Linked DNA regions of Homo sapiens: region 2 is linked to region 1. Evidence: fine-mapped expression QTL. A gene starts in region 1. The other region holds a variant in brackets. All regions are shown on one strand. Distances are from middle to middle.

Region 1 (4,396 bases):
GTATTGGGTGCATATATATTTAGGATAGTTAGCTCTTCTTGTTGAATTGATCCCTTTACCATTATGTAATGGCCTTCTTTGTCTCTTTTGATCTTTGTTGGTTTAAAGTCTGTTTTATCAGAGACTAGGATTGCAACCCCTGCCTTTTTTTGTTTTCCATTTGCTTGGTAGATCTTCCTCCATCCTTTTATTTTGAGCCTATGTGTGTCTCTGCACGTGAGATGGGTTTCCTGAATACAGCACACTGATGGGTCTTGACTCTTTATCCAATTTGCCAGTCTGTGTCTTTTAATTGGAGCATTTAGTCCATTTACATTTAAAGTTAATATGGTTATGTGTGAATTTGATCCTGTCATTATGATGTTAGCTGGTTATTTTGCTCGTTAGTTGATGCAGTTTCTTCCTAGTCTCGATGGTCTTTACATTTTGGCATGATTTTGCAGCGGCTGGTACCGGTTGTTCCTTTCCATGTTTAGCGCTTCCTTCAGGAGCTCTTTTAGGGCAGGCCTGGTGGTGACAAAATCTCTCAGCATTTGCTTGTCTGTAAAGTATTTTATTTCTCCTTCACTTATGAAGCTTAGTTTGGCTGGATATGAAATTCTGGGTTGAAAATTCTTTTCTTTAAGAATGTTGAATATTGGCCCCCACTCTCTTCTGGCTTGTAGGGTTTCTGCCGAGAGATCTGCTGTTAGTCTGATGGGCTTCCCTTTGAGGGTAACCCGACCTTTCTCTCTGGCTGCCCTTAACATTTTTTCCTTCATTTCAACTTTGGTGAATCTGACAATTATGTGTCTTGGAGTTGCTCTTCTTGAGGAGTATCTTTGTGGCATTCTCTGTATTTCCTGAATCTGAACGTTGGCCTGCCTTGCTAGATTGGGGAAGTTCTCCTGGATAATATCCTGCAGAGTGTTTTCCAACTTGGTTCCATTCTCCCTATCACTTTCAGGTACACCAATCAGACGTAGATTTGGTCTTTTCACATAGTCCCATATTTCTTGGAGCCTTTGCTCATTTCTTTTTTTTTTTTTTCTCTAAAATTCCCTTCTTGCTTCATTTCATTCATTTCATCTTCCATCGCTGATATCCTTTCTTCCAGTTGATCGCATCGGCTCCTGAGGCTTCTGCATTCTTCATGTAGTTCTCGAGCCTTGGTTTTCAGCTCCATCAGCTCCTTTAAGCACTTCTCTTTATTGGTTATTCTAGTTATACATTCTTCTAAATTTTTTTCAAAGTTTTCAACTTCTTTGCCTTTGGTTTGAATGTCCTCCCGTAGCTCAGAGTAATTTGATCGTCTGAAGCCTTCTTCTCTCAGCTCGTCAAAGTCATTCTCCATCCAGCTTTGTTCCGTTGCTGGTGAGGAACTGCTTTCCTTTGGAGGAGGAGAAGCGCTCTGCGTTTTAGAGTTTCCCGTTTTTCTGTTCTGTTTTTTCCCCATCTTCATGGTTTTATCTACTTTTGGTCTTTGATGATGGTGATGTACAGATGAGTTTTTCGTGTGGATGTCCTTTCTGTTTGTTAGTTTTCCTTCTAACGGACAGGACCCTCAGCTGCAGGTCTGTTGGAATACCCTGCCGTGTGAGGTGTCAGTGTGCCCCTGCTGGGGGGTGCCTCCCAGTTAGGCTGCTCGGGGGTCAGGGGTCAGGGACCCACTTGAGGAGGCAGTCTGCCCGTTCTCAGATCTCCAGCTGCGTGCTGGGAGAACCACTGCTCTCTTCAAAGCTGTCGGACAGGGACATTTAAGTCTGCAGAGGTTACTGCTGTCCTTTTGTTTGTCTGTGCCCTGCCCCCAGAGGTGGAGCCTACAGAGGCAGGCAGGCCTCCTTGAGCTGTGGTGGGCTCCACCCAGTTCGAGCTTCCCCGCTGCTTTGTTTACCTAAGCAAGCCTGGGCAATGGCGGGTGCCCCTCCCCCAGCCTCGCTGCTGCCTTGCAGTTTGATCTCAGACTGCTGTGCTAGCAATCAGCGAGACTCCGTGGGCGTAGGACCCTCCGAGCCAGGTGCGGGATATAATCTCGTGGTGCGCCGTTTTTTTAAACCGGTCCAAAAAGCGCAATATTCGGGTGGGAGTGACCCAATTTTCCAGGTGAGTCCGTCACCCCTTTCTTTGACTCGGAAAGGGAACTCCCTGACCCCTTGCACTTCCCAAGTGAGGCAATGCCTCGCCCTGCTTCGGCTCGCGCACGGTGCGCGCACCCACTGACCTGCGCCCACTGTCTGGCACTCCCTAGTGAGATGAACCCAGTACCTCAGATGGAAATGCAGAAATCACCTGTCTTCTGCGTCGCTTACGCTGGGAGCTGTAGACCAGAGCTGTTCCTATTCGGCCATCTTGGCTCCTCCACTCCCCTGCTCTCTAAAATATCTTTATAGTTAAATGCAATGTAATATAGAATACAGCAGACACAACAGAAAATAGCATTGTTTAAACAGCATTTTAAATCCTGCTTTGTCCAATCATATTTCTATAATGTCTGTCTTTTAACTTGGCTTCACCATGGTCTCTAAACTCATCCAGGAGGTGGCCCCTGCTTGCACCTCTGCCCTTCTGCCCTCCTGCACCTCTGCCCTTCTGCCCTCCTGCCTTTCAGTTCCTGCAGGCCCCAACTCTCCACTAGCTGGAGGGTCTTGGCTTGCTCCCTCTTCCTGGCATACCCTTCTCTGCTCTTTGTGTGTCTACCATCTTTTGCATCTCAGCTCAAATGTCCCCGTCTCCGGGAGGGCCTCCCTGATGATGTTATCTTAAATAGCACCACCTCCAAATTACTCTTTCTGACGTCACCTTGCCTATATCCTTTATTGCATAAGTTGGTAATTATCATGCTTATTTACTTGCTTTTTCAGATTTTAGCTTTTATATGTTTGTTTGTGTTGTGTCTGTCTCCATGTTAGAAAACAGTGCCACCTCTTCTCCAGGTAACTAGAGAGTCCCAGAGTTCAAGTGTAAAGACTGAGGGCATCATGACCTTCTGCAGGGGGCCTGTAAATGGATCAGAGAAGGGGTATTAGGTTGGTGCAAAAGTAATTGTGGTTTTGGCTGTTACTTTTAATGGCAAAAAACTACAGTTATTTTTGCACCAACCTAATACAAAGGAGGAGAAGTTGTTGGGCTCAATAGTCTCTCTTCTGTTCACTGAGTGGCTCAGGCCTGAGATAAGCAGTATCTAAGGACCCAATAATTAGGGATTCACAATGTTTTTTCAGCCTTCCCCCAATCCATAAATCCGTAACATGTATCCCAATGTGTGATTTTCAGACATTCAAATGAAAATGCTTTTTTAGGAATGCATCCCATGGAAAACTAGGAGTCCACCTATATGGTCTGAAAAATGCCTGCCAGTAGGCCCTTAGAATGGCCTGGGCACAGTATCTTGCTTCCTTTACTTGTCTTTTGTCTTGAGTACACACTGTGCTGCCCCTGCATTCCAAGTCCTGCCATTTCTGTGGGCAGCAGAGAGAACCTAGGAACCTGCTTCTTCTAATAGGAAACATACCTCCCAGACCTTGGCCCCAGCAGACAATGTACTCCCAGTTGAGCAGAAATGTGCATCATTATGTCTTCTAACAAATGTTGCTTTTTAAACTTTTCTCTTTCATTTGAGCACCCCTAAGGAGGGAGCAGGGGGAAGAAAAGCAACAGAAAGGAAGATCATTCATAATAAAAATGATAAGATACACATTTGGGGTTCAGAAGATAAGAGGAACTGGTGTAAATTTACAACAGCAGTTTCTAATTGTAGTCAGATTGCAAAATAGGAATGGATATATGACTCAAAGGGATTAAAAACATAAATAGTAAATAAACATCAATGATGTTCTGCTTAAAAAACATTTAAATATATTCAGACTCAAGTGATTTAGTTCATATCACCATATCCCCAGTAAATTAGAAACCATTAAATGTTGTAGAAATTTATATTTGGCAGAGCTGAGGACAAAATAGCATCATTAAATGATGTAGATACCTTGATGATTAGAGAATTTCCTGGAGAGAATATAGTTCACATAGGAGCCACCAGATTGGCCATGGTCCTTGCTCTGATAGTCGCATGTTTGACAATTTATTCTAAAGAAGTTCTTAGAAGAAAGAAATGCTTATTTGCACTAGGACGTTTATAGCTATTCTATTTGTGTGACAAAACAACAACAAACACAAAACCAACTGGAAGTCATGAAAATGTCCTATAATTGGTAACATAGGTATAATTGCTACATTGATTCAATATTTTGGCATGAAAAATGGTAGGTATATTGACGATATGGACATATGAGAGAGCAGAGAGCATATTTTAAATAACACGAAGTGAAAAAATATAACAGCATTGCACAGCGATTATAATGCTGTGCATATATCTTGAAGAACATAATCATGTAAAAAGTGATTATCAGAAGAGGTTACA
Region 2 (4,396 bases), 180 kb before region 1:
TTGAAAAAAGAATTTAAAGCTGAACTGCAGATCAACTGCATGGTTTCACACTTTTCTCGGAAAAAAGCAAAAACTGGAAGCTTATCAAGCAAACACACTTTTTCAGTCAGCAGGAATAGCATTAGGAAAAGGATAAGATGTGGCAGAGACACATCTGAAATTATTTGACTTCAGGATAGAAGATTCATGGCAGAGGGCTCTTGATCCTCGCAAAATTAGAAACACCCATAAGAATCTACTTGGGGACTTTTGCTACATTCTCAGTGGAGAGAGTTAATCCATTGAAAGCCTAGGAAAGCCTTCTTTAGTTTTCCCCTGTCATTACTGGGAGCAGAAGGACATTCAGAGACAGTTGAGTACCACATCAGCAGCAATGAGGTTGGGCCACAGAAACTGTCACCCAAATTTCCTAATTTCCCAGCACCTTTCAATCCTTTACAATGGGGCTTTTCTCCTCTGTAGCATACTGCATCAGATGATCCTGACACCCCATGAGAGAGTGCAGGCAGTGCTGCCTTCTGGGGACAGACGGGACAGAAGGGCCAGGGAGGACTGGGGAGGCTGGACAGAAAGCAGGGCTATGCTGGCCACTCTTGGGATCACAAGCATTTCCCAAGGTACTGAAGCAGAGAAAAAGTCACTGCTGGGTTGGCCCTCTGGAGATGTTAATACTTGAGGGATGAAACACTTTCAGCACTGATGCTGGGTTCAGCCAATGGCCCCAGCCCAGCTATGAAAAAAAGCATGCAGGACTCTGCCAATGTGGGAAAGTCCTCTCTTTGCTGCCAACTGGAGGGAGTGAAAATATGTGCCTTGCTAAATGACATTGTGGTAGGGAGAATTCTGAGCTGTCCCCCAGGACTCCTACTCCCGGTGTATGTGCCCTGCAAATCCCTAGGATTTATGAATGATGGGGTAGTCACTCCATCATCGGGTTGTTATTTGGCACAGCCGACTTTGAGAGATCATCCTGGGTGGACCTGACCTAATCAGGTGAACCCGTGAACGGTATGCCAGTTCCTGGAAAAGTAGATTAAAAGTGAGAGAGGCCTTCATTGTGGGGGAGATTCTCCACAGCTGCCTTTAAAGATGAAGGGGCTATGTGGCCAGACACATGGGTGGTCAGAGCTGAGAACAGCTCGGTCAAGAACCTGAATGAACCTGGAAATGGATTCCTCCCTAGTCAAGCCTTCAAACAACAACATAATCAGCTAACATTTGATTTCGGCTTTGCTGAGCAGAGAATCCCCTCCGTGCCTGGATTTGTGACTGACAGAAATGTGAGCTAACAGATGGATGTTGTTTTAAGCTACTAAGTTTGTAGTACTTTGTTAGGCAGCAGCAGAAAACTAATACATGTTTTGGTGGGATGGGCACCATGGGGATGATGGCTCCAATTTCAGCAGTCATGACCAATATCCAATCAGTGTTCCCTGTAGCCTAGGTGCAGGCTGGACTCTGCAAAATGCTGTCCCATTAAAATCTAGTAACAACTCTAAAACACAGGTATTACTATTTCCCCACACTTTACAAGGGAGGAAAAGAGGGGTTGGGGAATTTGTCCACAGCTATGTCAGTCATAGAGATGGGATTTGAAACCAGATAGCCTGATTCCATGGCCAACACACAGAGTCTCTATACTAGAGCTATTTCCTGACCATGGAATCCTGGCCAGTCCATGCAAGGGTGTGGGTGTGAGGGCTGGAGGTGTTGAGGGAAAAATCCTATAGGGAAGAATTGGTTCCACAGAGCTCAATATCTCACACATTATGATATGGTTTGGTTGTGTCCCCAGCCAAATCTCACCTCAAATTGTAATCCCTATAATCTCCATGTGTCAAGGGCAGGACCAGGTGGAGGTAATCGAATTATGGGGGCAGTTCCCTCATGCTGTTCTCGTGATAGTGAGTGAGTTCTCATGAGATCTGATGGTTGGTTTTATAAGCATCTGGCATTTCCACTGCTTGCACTTACTCCGTCCTGCCGCCCTGTGAAGAAGGTGCCTGCTTCTCCTTTGCCTTCTGCCATAATTGTAAGCTTCCTGAGGCCTTCCCAGCAATGCGGAACTGCAAGTCAATTAAACCTCTTTCCTTTATAAATTACCCGGTCTCAGGTATTTCTTCACAGCAGTGTGAGAATGGACTAGTATACATTACTAACGGAGGCACTGATTTCAGGGACTAGGTCTCACCTCCATCCCCAATGCACATTCCATTCCCCCAAGACAGTGGATTCTGTAGAGATGCTGGACCATACTAGGTGCAGTGAGTCACCATCTTCCTTCGTGCGGTTTGGCATATTAATGACTATTTGGGCCGATGACACTGAAGCAGCCCTTAATTTCCTCATCTTTCCTAGTCATGGCAAGGGTATTCATAAGTACCATGAAGGAGTTGGCACTGGTTTCCTTGGTATAAAAATCAGCTTTCCTAT[T/G]GCACTTAAAATATGATTTGCTTTACAGGCAAAACTTTCTGGAACATATTTACTGCATAAACTGAGATACACATATAATGCCTCCACCAAGCACAAAATAACAGCTTTCTACTCTTGGTGAAGCCTGTGAGGGAGAGCCCCTCGCCAAATGCAAGTATTAAAATATTACAGTCTCTGAGGTGAGAAGATAGATGTAAAAGTGGGAATATACACAATGCAGACACTAGCCACATGCAATCATGGGAGAACAGAGCCTACTTAAAAATCAAACCCAAGCTTTGCTTCAGAAATAAGTGGAGTTGAACCCATTCGATCATTTACGCATGACTTTGCAAAGGTTCTCTGGAGGGGGAAGAGGATCAACCTTCTCTCATACCGCACAGCAAGGGAACCAAAGTAATATAAATCACTCTTAAAAATGTCATGTTACTTTAAGAATAAGCCATACTGCTGGCACCTAGAATATTTTTGTGGGTCCCCATCTCTGGCTTTTCTTGTTCAAATGGCCCCCAGGCTAAGAGGCAGCTGCTCACATCCCTGCAACAAACATGTTCTTTCCTTTCTGCATAGCCTTCCATTTCTCGAGCCCGAAGACTCAAAAGCGCTCAATAAAAGAGAAATGGAAGCATCAGACCCCAGTGGTGAGATTTAAGACTGCAGTCAACTGAATGCTGGAACCAGTCCCAAACCTAAATGGCCAAATGAGGCTTTAACACCAAACCATGGAAAGGCTCCAAGAAAAGAGTAAGAACATTTTCTTCTTAAATTCATTTTGCTCTGGATCTCAGGGTTAAGACAAGAGTGAAATGGTGATGAAAACAAGGATGATATGTTTTAACCCCATCTATGCCAAAGGTTTCAGAAAGAATTAGAGCACAGGTTGTAAAGTTTTTTCAGGCTCCACCCCCTGCCCGCAAGCCTTTTTGGACCATAGAAAAGCCCCTTGTAGTTAATATTTTTAAAATTTCATTTAAAGTGAGATATAATTCATATACCATAAAATTCACCCTCTTGAAGCACACAGTCCAATGGTTTTTAGTACATTTACAAAGGAGACCATTTCCATTATCTAATTCCAGAACATTTTCATTGCTCCAGAAAGAAACCCATGCCCATTAAGCAATCGCTACCCACTCCCTTCTCTCCCCAGCCCCTGGCAACCACGAATCTAATTTCTGTCTCTATGGATTTGCCTATTCTTGACATTTCATATCAACAGAGTCACATCATATGTGGTCTTTTGTGATTGGCTTCCTTTGCTTGGTATAATGTTCTCCAGGTTCATTCATGTAACATGTATTAGTACTTCATTCCTTTTTATGGCTAAAAGATATTCTACTGTATGGATATACCAGATGTTGTTTATCTATTCATCAACTGATGGACATTTGGGTTTTTACGTTTTGGCTCTTATGAATAATACTGCAACAAACATTCATGCTCAAGTTTTTCTGTGGAGATATGTTTTCAACTCTCTTAGATTAATATTTCAATATATAAGAAATTTATACAGATAAGAGAAACTCTAAGTTTAGGAAACAGAAACATATATTGGCAACAAAAAAAGGAAAAACAATTTGTGAAACATATGGGAGAATATTGCCTTTGGTAGTAATCAGAGAAATACAATTTAGATTAGTGAGATACTATGTATCACTTCTAAATTCACACATTAAAAAAATAAGTATACTCAATAGTGATGAAGTTTCCTTGAAATGAATATGACTCTCTTACATTGCTGATAGAAGACCAGAAATCAGTGTAAAACCATTTGGTAAACCAATTTGGCAATATAAAAAATTCTTAAAAATGGGCATACTCGGCCAGGTGTGGTGGTTCACACCTGTAATTCCAGCACTTTGGGAGGCTGAAGTGGGTGGATCACTTGAGGCCAGGAGTTCAAGACCAGCCTAGCCAACATAGTGAAACCCCAACTCTACTAAAAATACAAAAATTAGATGGG

What was found. PIP is the estimated chance that this variant, and not a neighbour inherited with it, causes the effect.
Region 2: its variant is the best candidate, but not a certain one, in a credible set for the expression of LINC02527 in sun-exposed skin (GTEx, PIP 0.60).

The regions. Positions count from the first base shown.
Region 1 is chr6:111,906,682-111,911,077 of GRCh38, forward strand. LINC02527 (long intergenic non-protein coding RNA 2527) reads right to left here and starts at 2,716. Exons shown (of 3, transcript NR_149099.1): 1 at 2,245-2,716. RefSeq lists an enhancer at 1,427-2,113.
Region 2 is chr6:111,724,938-111,729,333 of GRCh38, forward strand. All of the region lies in intron 3 of FYN (FYN proto-oncogene, Src family tyrosine kinase), which reads right to left. Among named protein-coding and RNA genes, the nearest start is that of TRAF3IP2, 120 kb to the left of the region's middle. The variant T/G (reference allele first, on the strand shown) is at 2,434.